Homo sapiens: one gene and its partners. The protein of the gene in region 7 interacts with the protein of the main gene of each other region in a pairwise test. Each region holds a gene or a part of one and is shown on either strand. Other genes may lie near its edges.

What was found.
Region 1: the proteins of TMEM218 (region 7) and KIR2DL3 interact in binary tests that used the Homo sapiens proteins (3 or more experiments, as listed by UniProt).
Region 2: the proteins of TMEM218 (region 7) and SDC3 interact in a two-hybrid assay, tested with the Homo sapiens proteins (one large-scale study listed by BioGRID).
Region 3: the proteins of TMEM218 (region 7) and TM4SF18 interact in binary tests that used the Homo sapiens proteins (3 or more experiments, as listed by UniProt).
Region 4: the proteins of TMEM218 (region 7) and TMEM234 interact in binary tests that used the Homo sapiens proteins (3 or more experiments, as listed by UniProt).
Region 5: the proteins of TMEM218 (region 7) and TMED8 interact in binary tests that used the Homo sapiens proteins (3 or more experiments, as listed by UniProt).
Region 6: the proteins of TMEM218 (region 7) and KCNJ6 interact in binary tests that used the Homo sapiens proteins (3 or more experiments, as listed by UniProt).

The regions. Positions count from the first base shown.
Region 1 is NC_000019.10:54,748,513-54,751,032, forward strand, and holds part of KIR2DL3 (killer cell immunoglobulin-like receptor 2DL3 precursor), read left to right. Parts: intron 1-2,520. UniProt on the Homo sapiens protein: Receptor on natural killer (NK) cells for HLA-C alleles (HLA-Cw1, HLA-Cw3 and HLA-Cw7). Inhibits the activity of NK cells thus preventing cell lysis.
Region 2 is NC_000001.11:30,874,259-30,877,758, forward strand, and holds part of SDC3 (syndecan-3), read right to left. Parts: intron 2,908-3,500; coding exon 2,294-2,907; intron 331-2,293; coding exon 39-330; intron 1-38. UniProt on the Homo sapiens protein: Cell surface proteoglycan that may bear heparan sulfate. May have a role in the organization of cell shape by affecting the actin cytoskeleton, possibly by transferring signals from the cell surface in a sugar-dependent mechanism.
Region 3 is NC_000003.12:149,327,137-149,330,636, reverse strand, and holds part of TM4SF18 (transmembrane 4 L6 family member 18), read left to right. Parts: intron 1-217; coding exon 218-307; intron 308-3,500.
Region 4 is NC_000001.11:32,215,700-32,219,353, forward strand, and holds the end of TMEM234 (transmembrane protein 234 isoform a precursor), read right to left. Parts: intron 1,879-3,654; exon of another isoform or gene 1,738-1,878; intron 1,653-1,737; coding exon 1,560-1,652; intron 1,426-1,559; coding exon of another isoform or gene 1,268-1,425; exon of another isoform or gene 1,249-1,267; coding exon 1,154-1,248; 3' UTR 819-1,153; coding exon of another isoform or gene 711-818; 3' UTR 501-710; downstream 1-500. Other genes in the region: DCDC2B (doublecortin domain-containing protein 2B), read left to right, coding at 103-198.
Region 5 is NC_000014.9:77,349,595-77,353,094, reverse strand, and holds part of TMED8 (protein TMED8), read left to right. Parts: intron 1-1,343; coding exon 1,344-1,422; intron 1,423-3,500.
Region 6 is NC_000021.9:37,906,458-37,909,957, forward strand, and holds part of KCNJ6 (G protein-activated inward rectifier potassium channel 2), read right to left. Parts: intron 1-3,500. UniProt on the Homo sapiens protein: Inward rectifier potassium channels are characterized by a greater tendency to allow potassium to flow into the cell rather than out of it.
Region 7 is NC_000011.10:125,094,627-125,098,126, forward strand, and holds part of TMEM218 (transmembrane protein 218), read right to left. Parts: intron 3,115-3,500; coding exon 2,980-3,114; 3' UTR 1-2,979. UniProt on the Homo sapiens protein: May be involved in ciliary biogenesis or function.

The DNA of each region.
Region 1 (2,520 bases), on a different chromosome or scaffold from region 7:
GACACTGATATTGCAGATGGTTAAATGGGAGGGCAGAAAATGAATGCACAAGTGGATCTATAAATGAATGATCCATTGGGAAGCATCTGTGCATGAAATCTATTTTTTGTTTGTTCTTTTGTTTATTGAGACAGAGTCGCCCTCTGTCTTCCAGGCTACAGTGCAGTGTCACGATCTTGGCTCACTGCAACCTGCGTCTCCTGGATTCAAGTGATTCTCCTGCCTCCGCCTCTCGAGTAGCTGGGATTACAGGCAACTGCCACCGTGCCCGGCTAATTCTTTTTGTATATTTTTTGTAGAGAGGATGTTTCACCACGTTGGCCAAGCTTGTCTGAAACTCCCAACCTCAAGTGATCCGACCGTCTCAGCATGCCAAAGTAATGGGACTACAGGCGTGAGCCACTGTGCCCAGCCAGAATTCAAAATCAATAATAGATAATGCTGAGTGTATGATTTCAGGTGACAAAGAAGGTCTCACTATTCAGATATTTGTGACATTAATGAAAAACACGGATTGAACCCCTGAAAGATTGGCGGAAGGATTTTGCACACACAGCTGTCAGCCGTGAAGGCACAAAGGTGAAAACAATCTGATGTGGAAGGAAGAGGCTCTGCCTCAAATGCTGGGAATGATGTGGGGAGAATGACAAGACGACTGTAGAGAGACGGAGAGCACACTGGGTACACAGGAAACTAAGGAGCAACAAGGAGTGTGTGTTTGACACTCACAGCCATTGGATTCACCTCGGGGTAACCAGGAATCCCTACATGATTAATATGACTGACATGAAAATAAGGGAGGCTCAGTTGCATAACTGGAATCTAGGAGACCGTGGAAAAGGCAATTGCCACCCCACTGGTGAAATGTGGTGCTGATTTAGACACTAAATGAATGAAGTAGATGGATATAAGATATGTTTGTGAGGTAGAATCATTGACTGGAAACGCTTACTGGGTTTGATTTTCCTACTTGTTTAATCCTCGCTTAATTAATTTCTTTCTGAGATTTATTCATCCTACACATAAATCAATACCTGGCAAAGGAGTGACAGATATATGAGTGGTGGTGGAAATGAAGAGACTTATTATAGCATAATATACAAGTCTGTGAACAGTGGCTCACGCCTGTAACCTAGCACTGCAGGAGGCCAAGGTGGGTGGATTCCATGAAGTCAGGAGTTCCAGACCAGCCTGGCCAACGTGGTGAAACCCTATCTCTACTAAAAATACAAAAATTAGCCGAGCACGATGGTGCATCCCTGTAATCCCAGCTCCTATTCTGGAGGATGAAGCAGGAGAATGACTTCAACCCAGTAGGTGGAGGTTGCAGTGAGTGGAGATTGCATCACTGCACTCCAGCCTGGGGGACACAAGGAGACTCTATCTCAAAAAATAAAAATAAGAAATACATAAATATAATAAAACACACACGAATGACAAAGGCACCTGAATTCCAATCATCGTTTTTCTATTTCTCTATAATTACTTCTTTGATCCTTTATCTTATCCATTAGGCAATGAGCTTAAAACCTCTTCCCTATTTGGCTTTCTGTGAGAATGAGATCACATAGAAAATGTGAAAGCCCTCAGAATCCTCCAGCACAGATCGTGGAATAGAGAAAGTGCTCTGTTCATCGCAACAAAAAACTTGCCCACTCACCCAAATCCCCCACCTCACCCCTACTTCCAATCACCTGTGGAGATTCAGATAGGCTATGGGGAGGTAAACATTGATACTCCTTGGAGTGAGTCCAGATCTTGGAATCAGAGATCAGTGCCAGCACTAGCTCCTGCTCCCCTTTCCTACTAATTCACAGGAGGACAGGTGGTATTGAAGCAATAGATGGCCGAGGGGGTGGTCCTTCCCCCAGCCTCTCGGGTAGAACAGCAGCCTAACATGTGTCTCCCGAGATCACAAAGAGTAGCACGTTTCACACGGGCTTCAACACTATTTCCTGGCCATTTGACATAAGAGAATTCTACTTAGCTTTTTTTATCTTGATTTCACTTTTGTTTCCTTTTCTTGGAGAATGCAAGTTGTTTGATTCAAGAATGCTGTGGATGTAGAAATCCTAAAGCACATTCGCTGTGTATCAATCCCAGTGCAGTCTTCCCAGAGAAGACTCTAAATACCTCCTGGACTGCACCTGGGCTTATGCCAATTCCTATCACTCACCGTCACTCCAGGGAGACAGAACACACAGAGAATACATTACACAGGCAGGTTCATTACTAACAGATAAGCAGCGAGTGACAACAGAAACCTACATTTCAATGTGAGCCAGTCCCTCAAGGCTCAGAAAAGCTACTCGGGACATATGGAGTCACCCCATTTGCAGTGTAGCTGGGGGAAGCCAGAGAGCAGCCCAGCCTGGGTTTTGTACTGTGGAGCCACAGGAAGCACTCAGCTAAAGCACTGCATGACGTCCTCCTCCAGGAAGAACAGGAAGACAGCCCAGGCTGTTCTGAGACGTTCCTCCTGATCTCAGGACGTTGCTGTCTTAGTCCATTTTTGTTGCT
Region 2 (3,500 bases), on a different chromosome or scaffold from region 7:
CCTCCCAGGCTCCCCTTGGCCCAGACCCCAAGCCTCACCTACGAGCACCTCCTTCCGCTCCAGGATACTCTTCTGAGGCAGCTGAGCAGCTGAGCTGCCCGAGTCGATGGCATTGTCCAGGAGGCCAGGGCCCGGGCGGGCACCCTTGGGCAGTGTCCCAGGTGGAGATGATGCCTTGGCCGCAGCCCCTCCCACAGCTACCACCTCATTGGCTGTGTCTGGTTGTGTGGTCTCTTCTTCTGGCAGCTCGAAGTCTCCACTGGGCCCCCCACTCACCGGAACCTCTGGCTCATCCCGGATTGTGGTCAGGAAGGTCTCTGGAGTTGGGGTCTGCAGAGAGGGTGGCATGAGCCCAGGACAACCACACATGCATGCATAACCCCCCACCACCATCCTACTGCCCTGGGGGGCTAACACTTAGCACTCCCTACATGCCAGGCACTGTGCTACACACTATCCCCATGAAGGAGTGTAACAATGCCCCCAGTTTACAGAGCAGGAAGTCAGCTCAGAGCATAAATGACCTGCCCAAGGACACACAGCTAGTAAGTGGGGGACAGAACTAAAATTCAGATCTATCTGTCTCCACAGTCTGTGTTTCTAACCACTAACACACTGCCTCTGTTCTTGCTCTGGACATCCTGTCCCCCTCATGTCCCCTCCAGCTGCCTTAGTAACAATCCTTGGGGGATTCCTGCCGAGAAGCTGTTTGGGAACTGCTGGGTGCAGATGCTATGGATGTGGGCCTGGTCCCAGTCCATGCCTAAGGCAGGGGAGCATTCTGTAGCCTGGAGGCCAGTCCAAGAGCACAACCTGCAGACTATGATGGCCTCAGGGGCAGGTGTCCCGGAAACCAGCTCAGTGACTGACAATCTCTAGGGCTCCCACCACTCGGAGGCAGGATCAGAGCTGGGAATGATGAGACCAAAGTGGGGGCTGTGGGAGCCATCAGAGCAGGGATGTCGCTACTTCAAAGGTGGGCATGGAAAGGCAGGCCTGATGTCCAGGCTGAAAAGAGGCTGCAGCAGTGCCCCAGCGTACACAGCGTGCACAATGGCTCCTCCAGCAACCTGGGCCCTGTGCACCTTCTCCTGGGCTCCGTGCCCCATCACTGTTTCCCCTTCCTGCTTGGCCAAGTCTGTGTGAAAACACCAGGCTGCCCCAGCTGCTTGAGGAGGCAAGGGAAGGGCCTGCATCCTGCTAGAGCTGGCTGGGGAGTCAGAGGGACTGACACTGACCCCAAGGCAGCGCCACGGCCCAAGGGCCTTCCACAGTGAGGCCAGCTGCAGAGGGCTCTGGCACCCAGTCCATGTTCCCACCTCTCCATCTTACTTAGTGCACCCAGCTGGGACCAGACCACCTCTCTCATGTCCTTGGGATTCATCCATCCCTGGCACTCCTGACATCTTCATCCTCTTCCCATCAATTCCCCTGCCCCATCCAGAATATCCCAAATGCACACACATGCAGCCCTGGCCCTGCGAGACTGCCCGGCTCTGGCACCAACTGCCTGGGTTCAAATCCTGACTGTCATCGCTGGCTGCGGAGCCTTGGGAAGTGGCTTCACCTCCCTGTGCACCCACAGTTGCTCGTCTGTAAAATGAGATGACCACAGTGCTGCCCGTGGGGTGGGCATGAGGGCTGGGGCTAACACAGGTAAAGTGCTGAGCACTGACCCACACCCAGGCAGCCCTCCACAAGGCGAGTGATGCCTTCTCATACACCAGCTCTTAACCACCCTCAGACCCATGATAATAACAACCGTGATGACGACAGCAGCTGAGAACCCACTGGCTGTACCATCACCAGGCGCTGTTCTAAGCACTGTGGATGTCAGGAGACTTCACGCTCACAATGAAATGATACACATTCTATTGTTTTCTCCTTTCCGTAGATGAGGAAGCGGAGGTATAGAAATGATCAGGGACTGGCCTGAGGTCCCGTGACTAGGAAGTGGCAGTGGAAAGATTCTAATCCAGCTGCCAGACCACTGAATTAATTCTCTCAACCGAAACACTCAGCCCGGCCCCCCTTGTCACCAATGCACACGTTCACCCAATTCCTTCCCCACCAATGTCCCATCCCATTAGGATCCAACCACCCCAGCCCTCGTTTTCTGTCCCTCTTCCCTCCCTATCCGATCTCTGTCCCTTGGTCCTGCCCCTCGCCCCCACTTTGTCTGGCTCATCTCTATAGCCTCCTGGTCCTCAGTCCTGTCCAGCCCCATCCTCCTCATCCCTCCCCTGACCCACCCTCCTCCGCCCTCCTCCCTGTCCCTTCTCAACACCCTCACCTGAGCCACCTCTGTGGGTCCAGGGGCAGTGGTCCCCAGGGGCAGGGTGCTCCTCTCAGGGATGTCAGGCTCCTGGGTGGTGGCCGGCCTGGGAAGGGCTCTTGGCCGGGAGGTAGCTGTGCTGACCAGCCTGGGTGTTGGGGCCTCGGTGTCCAAGACAGCCGCCGTGGTGGGCGGGGAGGGCGCCTCGGGGGTAGTGGCCCGTGCCGTAGCCACTGTGGTCAGTGGGAGAGGCAGAAGCCTCCGTACGCCAGTGGTCCTTATAACAGCAGTGGTGGCCGTAAAAGGGGGTGCTGCAGGGGTGCTGGGGGTGGCGGTGGCCACTGTGGCAGGCACTGTGGCCACAGTCGGGTCCCCTGTGCTTGTGGCAGCAGTGGTAGCCATGGTAGTGGAGACGGTGGTGGCTCTCTGGCTGGGCTCTTCCGGGACTTCTGTCACCACCAGGGGGCTGGTGGCTGGCTCCAGGGTGGGGCGCTCAGAGGGGAGCTCTTCAAATGGTGTGCCCACAGGCTGGATGTTCGTGGTGGGCAGCACCGCAGGTGTGGTGGACACCGCCAGGGCTACATCTGGGCTGAAGCGCATGGCTGTCTCAATGCCCGACTCCTGCTCGAAGTCTGAGGGGGTGGGGGAGAGGGAGAGAGCTAGGGAGCTGGGTGGTTGTGAGGGGCATGAGGATCCCAGGTAAGCAATGGCCATCAAGATTAGGTCTCCCAACCCCCTCTCTTTACCCAATTTTCCCAGAAAAGATGAGAGAAAGGAGGAAGGCACAGCCCAGCTAAAGGTGGTCAGTTGCTGATGTTCCCCAACTTCTCTCTGCCAAGTCAAAAATTCTGGGGGCCGCCTCTCCCGGGAAGCCTTCCTTGACTATTCCTGCCCACCCAGCCTACAGTTTCTATGAGGTTGAATCCAGGCAGCAGCAACTGAGGCGCTACTGGCTGCAAAACTTGCTGGGGCTTGCAGGGGAACACAGGAGTGGCATTCTGGGAAGAGTCAGACCCCAAAGGCACCCCTACCACAAGCTCAAGGCAGGGGTGGTACACTAAGGGCTTCCCCCAGAGGCAGAGGCGGAGGGTAAAAGGGAAAAGAAGCCCTTGAGGCAGGGGAACTGCTTGAGCAATCTGGCTGACGCAAAGCCGGGACAGTGAAGGAACTTGGGAGGAAATGAGATGGGGAGTAGGGGATGGGGGAGGGAGAAGCCACAGCCAGC
Region 3 (3,500 bases), on a different chromosome or scaffold from region 7:
ACTCAAAATGTCACATATATTACCTCGTGACGATCTCTTGATACCATTTTATACAGAAGGTGTCTCAAATTCACACAGCTAGAAAGTGACAGAGCTTGGATTCAAATCCATATCTACCTGACCCCAGACTCTATGCTTGAAGACGCTGTCCTCTGATTATAAGCACAAATGTAAACTAGCATTTCATTGCTAACATTTTATGTCTTCCCTCCTATAGATGCTTATAGTAACAACAGTTCTTCTGGTACTGGAGAATAATAACAACTATAAATGTTGCCAGAGTGAAAACTGCAGCAAAAAATATGTGGTAAGAGCAACAGTTTTTTTGAGGATGGTTGAGTGGGCTCCAGCTTTCTTTCCTCTCACTCAGAAACACAAAAATATTGACAGTATTATACCCTCACTACTGTTGAGTACAGTACAGAGATCAAGAGTTTACTGCCAAGATCATCTTCCATTTTGCTTAGTCTTTCCTCCACTTTTGTTCTACTGATGCACTTTCAGAAAATCAGCATTTAAAGATACCTAAAATTAGGAAATAATACTTTTTTTTCCTAACTAAGTTTCCATTAGTCTATTTTTTCTTTACAAACTTTATTGAGGGCTAAATTACATATAATAAGTGGCATCCATTAAAATTATGCAATATCATGAGTTTTAACAGTTGACTACACTCATGAAACCACCATTGCAGTCAAGATAACAGAATATTTCTGCCAACCCCCAAAGATTAACCTTTGATTTACTTTTTGTCATTATAGATTAGTTTGTATTTTATATATGTGGAATCATACAATATTTGTCTTTTTTATCTGGGTTTTTTCATCCAGGATAATAATTTTTAGATTCATCCATATTGTTGGGTGTATGTGATGTGCATTTTCTAAGTTGGCACTTGAAAAATAATTAAAATAGTATCAGGGTGAATAATACAACCGCATTTTCTAAGCCAGTGCTCCTGCATTTCTACCATTCTCCTTCTCATCCTCTTCCTCCTCTTCATCGTTTATTCACACTTGCATAGCACTTTATAGTTCTTTCACATTTACTCAGTGAATTAAGTCATTATTGCTCCTATTTTATAGATGAAGCACTTGTGGCTCAAAGAGAACAAGTGATTATTAGCTAGGAGGAGTTTTATGATGATATCTGGTAGGCATTTTTTGCAGCAGTGCTTCTACCTGTTAGCTTCATATTGCAATCACCTGGGAGCTTGGAACAACACTAATGCCTAAATCCCATCCCCAGAGTCCCTGATTTAGTTAGTCTGAGGTACAACCTGGGCATGGATATGTTTTAAATCTCCCCAGGATATTTCAATGCGTAGTCAAGATTGTATGGCAAATTTTCTTTGACCAATGTCTTTTAAAAATTAAATTCGTTGCTTTATTTAGTACTGTGTCCCTTATGGAGAAGAATTGAAAATTTAAAATACACTCGTGTGTGTGTGTGTGTGTGTGTGTGTGTGTGTGTGTGTGTGACCAGTTGACTCAGTCATCCTCCAGTAGCTACTTGTAATATACTTATGGAAGAGATTTCAAAATTGCCTAGGGGAAATAATAAATTCAGGTATAGATTCAAGTTATGATACTCAGAGAATTTCTAGAAAACAAATATATGTGATATTAAGTGTAAAATAAAAATTCACATGTTCAATTTGCCTTAACTCACTATTAGCACTTCTAGCACAAATAGATGCTAGAAATAGTCTGAAAAGGGTCTTATAATCAGCATTAAATTAGATGACTAACATCTCATTGGGAACAGCAGGAGAAAGAAAGAGAGGATTCTCCGGGTTCCCTTTTTGGCCTTTTCAAGGTAAGTTCTAGAAGAGAAGTCCCAATTCAAATGCCCCCAGAAGCCACGTGTGTGACATAAATGAATTAAATGAGCCTGGTAGGCATCAGAGCACAATTTCCATCTAAGGAGGAGAAGGAGCTGCTACTGAAGTCCAGCCAGTTGTTGCCATGATCAAGTAGGGCAATAATTCTCAGTTTTCAGTAGAAAGTAAAAATATGGATTTTTATGTAAAACTTTTCAATTGTAAAATATTGGCAATTAATCTTCATTTAAACCAAACAAAGTACATATTGTGGGAAAAACTGAATCTGCATCAGTTTGTAACTTCCAAAATGTAATAAAAATTGATTCATTTCTTGGTTGTTATCTGCTATGGCCTGAATGTGTTCCTCCAAAATTCACATGGAAACCTAATTCTCACTGTGGCGATATTAAGAGGTGGGATGTTTTTGGAAGTGACTAAGTTATGATGGCTCTTCCCTCATGAATGAGAGTGGTGCCCTTATAAAAGGGGTTGAGGGGAGTACTCTTACCTCCCTTGCACCATGCGAGGACACATAGAAGGTGCCATTTATGAGGAATGAGCCCTCACCAGACACTGAATCTGCCAGTGATCTTGGACTTTCCAGCCTCCAGAAGTGTGAATAATAAAATTCTGTTATTAATTACTCAGTCTAAGGTATTTTTATTATAGCAGCAGGAACTAAGGCACTCTCCATTCCTGCATGGAGTCTGGTTTTCTGCCAAAATTCTTGGACAATTATTCCTGGAAAGCAAATATTGGCCAAATAAGGGCACTTGAAATAATAGCTAATATTTTATTATATTTTATTTTTGAAATTGCCCTGTCACATAGGTACCATTCCTGTCTACATCATCTACAGTTTACAGAAAAGAAAACTATGATTCAAATTCTTATTCCCACTTTATTTTGAGGCTTACCTTGATAGTGCAATGGTATCCACTCATTAGATTGTAGTGTGTGCGTGTGCATGTGTGTGTATGCTATGGCTGCCAGTTTCCCCCAATGAAGAAATTCTTCACTGATCTTCCCAGTGAATATTTTTTCCAGTTTTCCATAAAGAGGATATATTAATGTCATACTCAGTGAAATAATTTTAAACAAAGAAATGTTATTGAGATGATTTTTATTCCTAAAATCACAGGTTTGTTGGTCTTACTTTTTCTGGTCTCAGCTTTTGAATTTATTATCAATTGGTTACTGCATGTTACTATTCTGCTGCCTACTCTCACCCTGCAATCAACATTTCTAAAGCTAATTTTTCCCCCAAACCAAATAACCTTTCTTGGTATCCTTATTTCTGTCTCCTTTTTATCCAAGCCCCAGCTCTGGATTTTTTTTTTTTTTTCATCTCCAGCTACTCATTTCCTCCTTAATGTGTTTTCCTCCAATGTGTGTCTTTGTCACCTCAACTTGCATCTGTCTCCAAGCTGGATCCTTATCTTTGAGGTCTCTTACTTCCAGCTTGTGTGACCACTGCCAGAGCAATCTTCCAAAAGCACATTTTGGGCATATCACTTCCTGCTCAAAAACCAATTACAAGACTTGTTTAAAAAATAGTTTCTGGCCGGACACAGCGGCTCATGCCTGTAATCCCAGCACTTTGGGAGGCCAAGGCAGGTGGATCCCCTGAGGTCAGGAGTTTGAGAGCAGCCTGGCCAACATGGTGAAACCCCAT
Region 4 (3,654 bases), on a different chromosome or scaffold from region 7:
TTTCCAGTTTCTTCCTTCCTTGGGGTTGGGGACCTCCTGGCTGAGAGCTGGAGGCTGGCCATACTCACGGCTCCATTCTGTATGGCCTTCCACCTCCTGCAGAGGGCAGCACAGATAGTGGAAGAGGCCTTGTCCCTGGAAAACCAGCCTGGGGCTGGGGCTGCTATCTCAGCCTCAGCCCCAGCTCTGCCATCTTGAGAGCCAGCAGCTCCAGAGGGCAACTGGGGACCACTACTCTGGCCACCTTTTGTCCTTAGCCTCCAGCAGCTTGTTCCTCAGGAGCCAGCACCTCCGCTGGGCTCACAGGGTACACTGCGGCCTCCTCAGCCCTCCCCGTTCTCCTGCTCCTAAACCCACAGCCCAGCCTTCCCTTCCTCTGAGCAGAGCAGCCCTGGCTGTGGGGGCTATTTCCTTATGGGATTCTCTGGCCAGAGAAAGGAGTAGCTGACTAAGCCTGGGAGAGGGTTTGTCACAATAAAAGAATACTTACTAACCTCTTGTCTGTTTACCATAGATTTATTGACAGCTACTACTCGCCAGGTGTGCTGGAGTCAGGTGGGGCTGGGGCTCACAGCTCTCTACCTGTTTAAGAGGGGCTGGCAGTGAGGATTTCTGCCTACCTCATGGGTGGGGCAGGCAAGGCTAATAGACAGCTCATTTCCTGCATCTGCCACTCCGACGCACCTTCTTCCCTCGGTTCCACCCCTCATTCAGCCAAAGCGCTCTGACTGAGTCCCAGAGGCCTCCCGTTTGCATTTCTGGCTCAAAGTCTGCAGCTGGCCCTTTCCATGCAGCTGGAGTTCTGCAGTCCATGGAACCTGCCACCATGATAGTCCAGATCAGGCCACAGTAATGGTGGCTGGGCTGGGAGCCTGAGATGTTAGCAGGAAGAGAGCTGCTGGGGCAGAAAGGTTGCTGAGGGTGAGCGTAGAGTCTCCTGTGCTAAATCCCCGCAGCTGAACAGCACTTGAAGGTTACAAAACTCTTTCACTCTTGTTCTCTTATTGTGATCCATGAGGTAGCTGTTATCCCCATAAGAGAGGAGGAAGCTAAGGCCAGAGAGGGGAAGTGCTAGGTCCATCCGCTCACTGCCAGCACTTCATGGCCCAGGGGCTTCCTGGAGGCAGCAGAGCTGGAAGTGGGTTCGGCCCACTCAAAGGGTAGACTGTTGCCCCTGGGTCTTACTCACTGAGCTTGTGATGCAGAGTGAAATTCCTATCACGGTGAGCACCATGCCAGCAACTGCTCCTGGGATAATAGGCAGAAATCAGGAGGGTCTGAGCTCAGCCATGCCAGTAGGAGCTGGTACAGGGCTGGAGGAAGGGCTCAGATGGGGTCTGGTCTTCAATCCCAAACCCCAGCCTCTGTCTTTCTCCAGACTGTCCAGGGGAAGGGAACTCTGATGGCCACAAGGAAGCAAAACAGCTGCAGAGGAAAGGGCAGGATGGGAAAAGGCCGTGTCCTCACCCACTCTGGGGAGATGGGTTCTGGGAAGGAACTAACACAGGTATGTCGAGATCCACAGAGCTGCGTCCCGCACTCGCAGTAGTCTAACTTACGTTTTCCACCAATATCTTCTCCAAGGGCCTTCCCAACAATCAGTGTGAAGATGATAGCCAGAGAGTTACAGATGGGCACAGCCAGGGTCAGATCTGGGTGGTCAGAATGAAAAGAATGCCTGAGATGCAACAAATGCCTTTCTAGGCACAAAACACTTCCATCATCATCATTTCATACCTTTAAAAAAGGTATCAAAACCCCATCTTCCAGATGAAGTCACAGCAAATCTCAGGACTCAAACCCACATCTCCTGACTCCACGTTCAGTGCTTCCCAGGATTCCAGCATGAAGACCTGAACTCTGAGGTCTGGGACCAGCCTGGTTTGATAATGAGAATGAGGTCTTTGCACTCAAAGAGAACTCGTGAGATCTCAAGGACATCTGGACGGACAGGCAGGCACCCAAATCCCAAAGGATGAGTAGAGAGTCAGGTAACACCAAGCACAGCCACCATTTATTAAGCACATACCATGGCCTAGGTGCTTTGTGTACATATCTCAGTTTTCACAACACTGCAAGAAGGGGATTATCACCATTTTGCGTAAAAGAAACAAAGGCTCAAAGAAGTCACATAAACTAAGGCAAGTTGAGGATTTAAACCAAGGCTTGCCTGACTCCAAAGCCTGCGCCGTTATTAAACTGTGGATATAGACAGAGCAGAACATCAGATGAAGCACATTTTGTTTCTGTTTCAGCCCAAGCTCAGGCCTTATGGAGTTAAAAATAAAAAGTGTCAGAAGGAAGGAGCAGGACCTGTTCAGGACATTGGGCTGGACCTGTGGTGTGGGTAGAGGGCATCATAGCCCAGGATCTGTTCCTTAATTTTGAAGTTCCAAGGGGCTGACTGCCAATAAGCAAACTTGAAAAAGAGTAATGGAGTTGGCTGGGTGCAGGGTGGCTCACGCCTGTAATCCCAGCACTTTGGGAGGCTGAGGCGGGCGGATCACCTGAGGTCAGGAGTTCAAGACCAGCTTGGCCAACATGGTGAAACCCCGTCTCTACTAAAAATACCAAAAATTAGCCAGGCATAGTGGCGGACGCCTGTAATCCCAGCTACTCAGGAGGCTGAGACAGGAGAATCGCTTGAACCCAGGAGGCAGAGGTTGCACTGAGCCAAGATCACACCACTGTACTCCAGCCTGAGAAACAAGAGTGAAACTCTGTCTCAAAAAAAAAAGAAAAAGACTAATGGAGTTAACTTAAAATTTGTTGAGGGTAGATCTCCTGTTAAGTGTTCTTATCACATCAAAAAAAGAGCCACAGCCAGGCGCAGTGGCTCATGCCTGTAATCCCAACATTTTGGAAGGCTGAGACGGGCGGATCACCTGAGGTTGGGAGTTAGAGACCAGCGTGACCAACATGGAGAAACCCCGTCTCTACTGAAAATACAAAATTAGGCTGGGTGTGGTGGCTCACGCCTGTAATCCCAGCACTTTGGGAGGCCGAGGCGGGTGGATCATTTGAGGTCAGGAGTTCAAGACCAGCCTGGCCAACATTGTGAAACCCCGTCTCTACTAAAAATACAAAAATTAGCCAGGCATGGTGGTGCATGCCTGTAGTCCCAGCTACTTGGGAGGCCGAGGCAGGAGAATTGCTTGAACCTGGTAGGCAGAGGTTGCAGTGACCAGAGATTGCACCACTGCACTCCAGCCTGGGTGACACAGCAAGGCTCCATCTCAAAAAACAAAAACAAAAGAACAAAATTAGCCAGGCGTGGTGGCACATGCCCATAATCCCAGCTAGTGGGGAGGCTAAGGAAGGAGAGTCACTTGAACCTGGGAGGCGGAGGTTGCAGTGAGCCAAGATCGCACCATTGCACTCCAGCTTGGGCAACAAGAGCGAAATGCCGTCTCAAAAAAAAAAAAAAAAAGCACCACATACACATAAAAAAGACCAATGGACGAATCAGCTGAGTTATCCATGGTAACAAGACTCAACTGCAGACCAGATGTTCACACTGGCTCCTCAGCAAATTCTTTCCCAGCACTCCCAGGGCTCGCCTGTGTGAGGCAAAGGAGCAAACTGTCCTGCTCCTCATCCCCTGGGAGGCCCCAGCATGGAGGCATTACCCATCTAAGAAATTGATACAACCCC
Region 5 (3,500 bases), on a different chromosome or scaffold from region 7:
CCTTAAGTTCCTTACTGCAAAAATGGCTGTGATAAGACCAGCCATACATAGGCTTCTTTTGAGCTTGAGAACATGGCCTTCATTATGCATTTCACCTATATACTCCTTGAGGGCACCTAGTTATTCAGTAAATCATTGGTAAATGAGTGATTGAATAAATAAATGAAAATACAAAAGTCCTTTACCTGACCTTGGGTACATTGATCTGAGCTTATTGAATGTAGAAGTGACACTTTATACTTTGATGCTAAATTCAGTTTATCTTACATCCCACTCTGCCCTCTATGTTCTGCCTAATTTAACCATCTGCTTTCTGAGGAATATGATTTCTTTCTTTTTATTAATTTTTTTTAATTGAGTTGGAGTCTCGCTCTGTCGCCCAGGCTGGAGTGCAGTGGTGTGATCTCAGCTCACTGCAACCTCCACCTCCTGGGTTCAAGTGACTCTCCTGCCTCAGCCTCCTGAGTAGCTGGGATTACAGCTGCGTGCCACCATGCCCGGCTAATTTTTATATTTTTAGTAGAGACATGGTTTCGCCATGTTGGCCAGGCTGGTCTCGAACTCCTGACCTCAAGTGATCCGCCCACCTCGGCCTCCCAAAGTGCTGGGATTACAAGTGTGAGCCACCGTGCCTGGCCCTATTTTTTTTTTAATTTTTAAAATTTATTATTATTATTTTTGAGACGGAGTTTTGCTGTTGTTGCCCAGGCTGGAGTGCAATGGTGTGATCTCTGCTCACTGCAACCTCCGCCTCCCGGGTTCAAGTGATTCTTCTGCCTCAGCCTACCAAGTAGCTAGGATTACAGGTGTGCACCATCATGCCTGGCTAATTTTGTATTTTTAGTAGAGATGGGGTTTCACTGTGTTGATCAGGCTGGTCTTGAACTCCTGACTCACCTCAGCCTCCCAAAGTGCTGGGATTACAGGCATGAACCACTGCATCTGGCCTTAATTTTTTTTAGAGACAGGGTCTTGCTCTGTTGCCCAGGCTGGTTTTGAACTCCTGGTCTCAAGCAATCCTCCTGCCTTGGCCTCCCAAAGTGTTGGGATTATAGGTGTGAGCCACTTCACCTGGCAGAAATATGATTCTTAAATTAGGATTAATTTTTGGAGCCTTGTTTTAGAAATGATTTATTTTTTATGAATGAGATATGACTGTCTGAGAATACTTGGATGTGATGACTTGAATAATTTATGTGTTGGGCCTCTGAGAGTATAAAGTTCATACCAGAATATTTTTGGGAAGAATTTGGTTGAAATTGCTAGATTTTTTTAAAGGTACAAGATAATTATGATTGTATTCCCTCTCAGATATTGAATTCTTTCTTTCTATGGTTTTCTAGAGAATGAAGATCTAGAAAACAAGGATACCTCTTTATTGGCTTCTGCCACCGATCCAGAACCCTGCTCCTCACCCCACAGGTAACCACTTTGGATAGAATGCTTTCACAGGTTTTATCTTCTGAGATGAGGAACTGGTGAAAGAAATAGGTAGTGACTTTAAGCGGGGAGGCAAGTTAAAGTAAAGAATGTGGGCCGGGCGCAGTGGCTCACGCCTGTAATCCCAGCACTTTGGGAGGCCAAGGCGGGTGGATCACGAGGTCAGGAGATCGAGACCATCCTGGCTAGCACAGTGAAACCCCGTCTCTACTAAAAATCCAAAAAAAAAAAAAAAAAAAAAAATTAGCGGGGCGTGGTGGCCAGACTACACGCCTGTAGTAGCTGGGACTACAGGCGCGCACCACCACGCCTGGCTAATTTTTGTATTTTTTAGTAGAGACGGGGTTTCATCATATTGGACAGGCTGGTCTCGAACTCCTGACCTTGTGATCCGCCCACCTCGGCCTCCCAAAGTGCTGGGATTACAGGCGTGAGCCACCGCGCCGGGCCAGGGATTTAATTTTTAACTTTTGTTTCTAACATTTGCTGAGTGAAGATAAAAATCCAGTGAATGTGATGCCTGAGGCTTACTTCTTATGCTTATGTGTCTATTGGAAATGGAAACGGCACAACTTTCTATCTTTTCTAGTGAGGCTGGCTTGCCGGCCAGGCTCTCCCCTTCCTTTGAGATGGCCTCCCTGCTCCAGGTCAGTACAAACCAGAAGCTTAAAGCGGAGGCTTTTCCTTTATGTGGCTTATCACCAGCATCAAATAATTTGAAATTAATCTTTCCCCAAATGCCCTTTTCTAATTCTCCAGAGCATAAAATGCTAATTGTGAATATTAAATTTATGTGGGTGGCACATATCCTGTTTAACATAATTTTATTATTTAATTATTTCTTGAGACAGAGTCTTGCTTTGTTGCCCAGGCTGGAGCACGGTAGGCAGTCATAACTCACTGCAGCCTCAAGCTCCTGGACCATGCAACCCTCCCATCTCAGCCTTGTGAGTAGCTAGGACCACAGGCATGAGCCACCACACCGAGCCTTAAAATATGTTTTTTAAATAAGCAGAACCATGTTTTTTCAGAGTAGCATGCACAAAGACAAAGAGACAATTTTAGATGTCACACACAGTAAGTCAAGCTAATGATTCAGATAGCCTGTTGTAGTCTCACCTTTCCAATATTATAAATGATAGTCTGATCCAGAATTTCTCTTTTATTCCCAGGCAAAAATTAACTTATTCATTTTTTATTCAACAAATATTTTGGGGCTAATATTTATTCAACAGATGTTTGTTGGGAGCCTACCATGTACCTGATACTGTTCTAGGTACTAAAGAAACCACAAATGAACAAAATAGTCCATCACTGCTCTCAGGGAGCTTATGTTCTAGTGGGGGAAGTGGACAGAAAACAATTACACATCATACTTCACAGACTCTTAAGTTGCCGTCAACTGTAAGTTGTGCTTTCACGTCCCACCAAGAGAGGAAGAAATGCTTAAGATGGATCATCTAATAGACCCCCCATATGCAACTGGGATACCAAAAACCTGCACCTTCAGTGAAAATATAAAGACAAAAATCCCCCACACAGAAAAGGACAGCAAGGAAGCTTGATTGTCTCAAACTTGACACTGTGTCATAGGAGGAAAAAATATCTCCCCTGAGAATAGGAACCACCAGTTGGTATTAGCCAGTGTCTTGTCTAAATTCACTCTGCCAGGAGGATTAAACAAAACCCTAAACAGAGAACTTAATTTCAAGAAGTCTCAGATTGGTAGCATTCCTAAGTACTGGCAGAAGCAAATGCAAATCTCTCGTGGAAAGAGTTGATGTCAATCCAGGCCCACGGCACTTTTAAGATATCATCAATTTTTAAGACATCCTATCTTTCAGTTGTGTTAAAATCTAAAAGCCAGTGTGCATCTTGCAATCAACAAAATATGCTCCATATCATGTCAGGCAGTAATAGGTGCAGTGAAGAAAAATGAAGCTGGGTAAGGGCAGAAACAGTGACAAGGCCAGGAAGGGGCACACATTTTATATACAGACCTCTGAGAAACCTCTCAGCAGAAAACCTGCAGGAAGGAAGTCTTCAGTTAACTAAAGAAG
Region 6 (3,500 bases), on a different chromosome or scaffold from region 7:
CTCCCACCCTTTAGAGTGCATCAGAATCCCTGGAGGGGATGGGCAGATGATTGGCCCTGTCCTCAGGGTTCCTGATCCAGTAGATCGGGGGGTGAGCTTGAGAATTTGCATTTGTAGCCAGCTCCCTGGTGATGCTGCTGCTGGTTCAGGGACACACTATGGGAACCACTGACCTCAGCTGACTTTCATCAGCTCTGATGCCTCCTTTTGTCCACAGAGACCCCCAACAGTGGCCAGTCAAGGAGACATGTGGAGTGTGGGCTTGGGCCCAACACTCCTTGAGTGCTGATTAAAAAAGAGGGCCACCTAATGCGGCCTCTCTTCCAATGACAACACATAATGTCATAGGTTCTTTATTTGCCGTCCTCTTTCTGCCCTCTCTTTATATGCTTTACTACTGTGGGCCCAGCCACCCCAGGAGGGCTAATGAAAATTTAAGAGGGTGAATATGTTTAGGGTATTGACTGGTGAGACCTTGGGAGACAGCTGAAGAGGAAGGAATCTACCCCATTCGTTGCCATTATTGAAACTAGATTTCTTGAGAGGAGGAATTATATGTTAGTAGCACTATATTTTGCACGTTAGAGATGTCTAAAAATCTGAAGTGTGCTCTGCCTAACTCGTCATGGAGTCTTGGCTCTGAAAATGTTGTAAGGTGATGCAAAAACCTCCGAAGAGAGATTTCATTCCTTGTCTTTTGACTGAAGGTAGTGTGTTGACAACAAAAAGCAAGGGTAAAGCTTTTCCATGAGCAGTGAGTCCTGTACCCTTCCTCTTAGTCATGTGATGCTGCTTAGTCATATGATTACTGCATTCCAGACCTGCTCTCATAGACACAAGGTTCGTGTAGGGACTGAGATATCATTTTTGGTTAAATGTGATTCATTTTTTTTATAGAGAAATGATGGCTCCCTCAGTCATAAAGCAATGGCCCCATAGAGTGGTGAGGTCCAGTCTGATTTGTTGACTGAGCCTGAAGGGCATCGCTTCTCTCATAGCCATTAGAAGTGCTCTGTGTTGCAGAGACTTTGAAATACATACACTCCAACCCCAGTTCCTAGCTCTCTCAGCTTCTTTATGCTTCTAGTGACAAAGAATTCAGAGCTGTGTAAATGCAGAGAAGACAGATCACATTACCTCTGCCCCGCTCTGACTACTGAAAATGCTTTCTTATATTGAACCAAAATATGTCACTTTGTAGCTTCCACTGCTGGGTCCCACTTTTATCCCTTAGAGCCCAGCAGAACAATTATAATCCTTCCTTCATCTTCAAATATCAAGATACCTGAAAACAACTATCATGCCTCCTCCCCCACATATTCTCCAGGGAAAACACTCCTAATTCTTTCATCTACTCTAATATTACATGGTTTGGACTCAGGTACTGTCCTGCCTATTCCCTTCTGCACATAGATTGTTGGATTATATCCCTTTTAAATTGAAATGATTGAATGTGGCAGTGAAATAAATCCTGTCCTCAAAAACATTCTCTTCATTAAACAGAAGTTCCACTATGAGACATTATTTACTTTGGAATGGCAAGATATTTGAAGAGGTCAAGAGTTTTCTAATCCAGTATTACTGCCCCATGGAAGGATTAACATGCATTACTGGTATTTACTGTTTCATTTTGATAATGTTTTCCCCTGCATGAATGTATGTGGCTGTGATATCTGAGTTAGGGAAATGGAAACGATGTAAGAGAACCGGAAGTATTATGGATCACCACTCTGTTTCTTCTGGTTCTTCCTCTCATAGTCTTCTCAGATATTTCTCCCTGACATTTCTCTTTTCTAGGTTGTAAGTTTGGCATTAAAGCTGTTCTTTTGCTTCTAGTGAAAAGGTATGGAACTTAGTTTCCAAGTTTTCTCCTTGAGGGAAGCAGAGGTTCTCAAACACTGCTTACAAATTACATGGTCTATTTTCAGGAAAACAATGACTATTAGTAGACTAATTCAACCTAAACTTACAGCATGTATCTAGCCTATGGACATTTAGGGGATTTAAAACAAAATGCAAATTGCTAGTCAACAGCAAGTGCCAGATATTAGAAGACAGCATCTAATTCTTCAGCATTCTTAGACACAATGTGGGTGTAATTGTCAAGATTAGAACATTGCTTTTGAGCATGGGTTGTGAAGTTGGCTTTTCTCCTTTGTGTCTACTTTAACAGATCAGCTAACAGAAATCAAACAATATGTATTTGCATCTCTTTTGTTAAGAATCATCTACACCTACTCCAAAAGTCAACATATCCCAACTAATTTATTTTAAAAAAATACACCACTAAAGAATGATTCAAGGGCACCAGGAAATATTGTCTCTACCAGGAATCTTTTCACCACTGGGACAAATCATTTCCTCTGCCTTACTCTATCCTGATTCACATTAGCTGTATTTCTTTGCTGCCAGACATTTATATCGGGCATGCATACCAAAGACTCCAGTGTGTTCACCCTACCAGTTTCCCTCCTCCTGGATATAGAGCTGAACTACAATTTGCAGCTGCTCTTGCAGTTAGGTATGACCATAGAATATGAATAGGAGTGATATACATTACTTCTAGGCCCGGATCATTAAAATCTTCTACATAATCATCTACTCTCCCTCTTTCCTTGTCTGCTAGTTGGATATCACCACTCAGCAGATCTTAGAAGCCATGTACTAAAGATGACAAAGTGTCCCTCAGCCTGGGTCCTTGTACGGCATCAACCAATTAGATTTATGTGAAAGAAATCTTCTATTTTGTTAAATTAGTGAGATTTAGATATTTTCTGTTTCAAGAACTTTCTAATTAATACAGTATACACAGGCTCATCAAGAACTGAAGTTAATGCCACATTGCAATAAATGAATAAAAACATCTGCTATTTTTAAAGTGCCTACTTTGTGCTGGACACTGCACAAAGAACTTTTTTTTTTTTTTTGGAGACAGAGTCTCCCTCTCACCCAGGCTGGAGTGCAGTGGTGTGATCTCAGCTCACTGCAACATCTGCCTCCTGGGTTCAAGCAATTCTTGTGCCTCAGCCTCCTGAGTAGCTGGGACTACAGGCATGTGCCTCCACACCTGGCTGATTTTTGTATTTTTAGTAGAGATGGGGTTTTGCCACTTTGGCCAGGCTGGTCTCAAGTCATCTCCTGGCCTCAAGGGATCCACCTGACTCGGCCTCCTAAAGTGCTGGGATTATAGGTGTAAGCCACCGCTCCTGGCCTGTGCTAAGAACTTTACTTACATTATCACATGAATCCTCATAACATCTCTGAGGTATATGTTGTTATTATTACTCTTATTGTTATTATTTTATGATAGGGAAAGCAAGGCATAAAGTTGATTAAGGTCACATAGTTAGCATAGTGGATTATATTATTGCCTCCAATTATTCTCTTCCCTCTCTGAAAGATTAGATGTCTCTACCTGTTGCTGCACGGCTTGCAGTGCTTCACTGTGGGAGAAATATACATCTCCTTCCCATTGATCATTGACACTGATGTGACATGTG
Region 7 (3,500 bases):
CTCATCTGTAAAATAATCACAGCAGGTTTCTTTACACATTGAGCAAAAAATAAACCAGAAACACTTCAACTGCAACAACCATGAAATAGAGTTGATACTAAAGTTTCTGTTAAATAACAGAACAAAAAATGGATTGCTTTATGTTAGAATAAAAACATTTAAAAATAAATTGGATGCCCTCCTTCCAGGAAGCAGTGAGGAAGACAGTCTAGACACCTTACAGCCTAGTTCTTCCATGGGCTTACTCCACCAGGACTAGTGCTTTACACCCTACGGGCACACAATATATGCTGAATGAATGGCAGGATTCGAGAATGAATGGCTATGTACTCCCTAGTCCCTGGACATTGGTATGGTAATTCTGATGCAGTTTTACATTAAATTTACATTGTACACAAAGAATGGTAGCTTTACTTCCATTTTTATCAGTGAAAAATTTAAGGAACTTAACAAATTACCCATTGTGATCTCCATTGTGGGGATAGGGTGGTATCCTCCTAATTCAGCTTTTGTCAGGATACAATTTTAAGACGCCACGAAATAACCTATTTTCTTATATAGAAACCCAGATTTACTCTCCCTCTCCACCTTCTAAACAGTGGGGATCACCAGTCTGCCACAGGATCCCCTCTGGGTAGGGAACAGTAGAGGGAACATGTTCTAAGGCCACTGATCACAGAATGGTTCTGAACACTAAGATGACTTCTGTCTGTATTTAAGGAATGACCTCTGAGCCCTGTCTCCAAGAAGGCCATGAGCATACAGGGTACCATAACAGACATTGACTATAGGGTTATCCCATGCCAAACTCTCAGTGAAATCCATTTTGAGCCCTCTCAGCCTTCTACGTCTTATCCCAACCCTGCGGGGCTTTTTTTGCATAACTGCATTGAGTATGCAGGTAGAAAGAAATCTATCATTCATTTCACCACAGCTGGTAATTATAGACTCCAGGTCTGTAGACTGTAGGTCAAGTCAAGCTGAAATAAACTTTGCACAGGGTATTTTTTTTTTTTTCCTAAAGCCAATCTTTAACATATATGCCTTTCATTTACATCAGGCAAAAAAACAAAAATTAGAAAACAGTAGTATTAAGGATAGAATTTAGTTTCCAACCTTAATACACTTTCCTCCATCTAAATAGTCACCCAAAACCTCATAGTTATTATCCATTGATCTAATAGTTGAATAACTTTTGGGGGGAATAAAAAAGATGGATTCATGGTCAGGAACCTATAAGAGTTTTCCCAGAGTTACTTTTTTAGCAAGGCTCTCAGAAGAAGGTAACAATTGGCAGCTTGTGCTTGTTAGGAGCCAAGCTTCCACTTGGGCTGCAGGGAGACTCACAATAGCATGAGGCCCCCAGCTTGTCTCAATTCCCTCAAGACTTATGCATTCTTTTTTCTCTCCCTCAATCTGCTTAGAGGATGTTTCTTCTTTTCTTACCTGTGTGCCCTAGGCCAGATTAGGAAACTATTTCCTTTGAAGTTTTCTGTACAAAGCCTTATCTGCAAAGTTTTTCCAAACTAAGTAAGATAAAGGAAATGGTTCAATGTAGGGATAACTATACCTGGCCCTCACCAGCCCATGACTCTCAGTGGTTACCTGTTCTCTCTTCTTGGAATTTAGAGCTTAGTTGCCTGTGGGGTGGCAGGACTGGGTAACTTCTCTACCCTGAAAACAGAATTGAGGAGAGAAAGTGAAGGAACAGTGTGGCCTTAACCTACCTGAAGCTCTCAATCAGAGTTCCACAAACCCTAGTGTGTTTTCTCTCTGAGACAAGCCCTGGGGCCTACCACACCTGGGTTTGCACACTGGCTGTTAGGTGAAGGTTGGGCAAGTCAGCTGATCTCTTTAAGCTTCCATTTTTTCTACTTTAAAGTGGGGATGATAAAAATGAGACCGTTGTAAAAATTAAATAAATTAAACCTCAAAGGAATTAGTGTGCTATTGGCATAGAGCACATACTCCATCAGTGATCTCTTTCCAACTTGTTTTCTTGGTTCTTAATTTTAAGCCAGAAGATTCTTTTTCAAATGGCTCTAGGGAGTCAGGATCAGACTTCCAAAGTGGAACCTGACCAGGGCCCCTCCATTTAATGCAAATTTCATTTGGTCTGGGAGATCAGACAGGTATAGAGTTATATCTGATGTTGAGAATATACCTTCCTCACTAGCTTTGGAGAAAGGGCTACAAAGATGAAAAGTGAAGACACCCCAAAATGGACTCATGGTAATTAAATAAGGCACACACAGCCCACCACATCATGGAAGAAAAAAACCTACAGATACATGGCAAGACAAAAAACAAAAAACAATATTTCCATACCTTTCCTCTAATCCCAAGGAAACCTAAAGAACTTGATTAAAAAGCCGTGGCCAAGAGTTCGAAGTGAAAGTCAGCCCTTTAGCTATTATTTATTGCTTTATTAGAGCAGAGGGAAGTGACACTCATTGCCTTCACAGAGCTCTGCAGAAATATATGCACAGAGTGGTCAATGACCAACATCTGAGTAAGTCTTCCAAATTATCACATTAAAATAACCTTTCAAATTTGAGTGCCTCTCCTTTGCAAACAACTGCAACCTCATAATGAATAATTTTATATATTATCAAAAAGAACCAGAAGCCCAGGTGCTTTTTTCCCCAAAATCCACTTACTAAGGACTTGAGTGAAAATCCACTCTAAGCAGATCACTGTTACTATTTCCCTTTCAAAACAGTTGGAAATCCTAAGGTACGGGTACTAAGAAGATAGCAATATCCTTCTTAAGCTGGTAAGAATCTAGCCCCACAGGGACAATTTGGCAATCCTGTTTCTGGAAGCCAGGACTCCAGAGATTTGTCTTAGTGATGGACAGATACTCCTCTAACCTTAAGGCATGAGGGCTGTCAAAACAAGGCTCTGAATAGTGCCTTCCTGCTCATCAATGTCATCACAATGAAGGAGAGAACAGGTTTTCGTTTTCCTGAAGAGTGGTCAGTAGGAGTGCAGTGGTTTGGCATAGATCGGCTCCAGAACATAATGGATTAAAACCAAGAAGAGGCCTCCAAGGAAGATGGCACTAAGGAAAGCCAGCAGGACATAGCGGCCAATGAAAAAGTCATCCACAATCTGGAGAAAGAAAACATCAAAATGAAATTACTACCAGTTAGACACCCTGGCTGGGTTAACCTGAACTCCATGATGAGTGGGCCAAGAGTTAGTTCATGTGTATAACTTCCAGTAACATCCTGCCCTGAGTCTCCTCTGTACATGAGAAAAAAGAATCTTTTCCTCAACTCCCTGAGCAGGAGACACAAGAAGGGATTAATGAGGGACAGGGAACAAATGGCTCAATTTAGGATGTTGGTAAACACTTTGAAGTCCCTGGATGAATTCTTTTATATTCTGAAATCTGTTACCTGAAAGAGTTAATGAGAAGCTTTTGCATGGTCCTAGAAAGGCTCATTTTTGTTGTTGCTAAAATACATTTTATTACGGAGAATTTTAAACATACA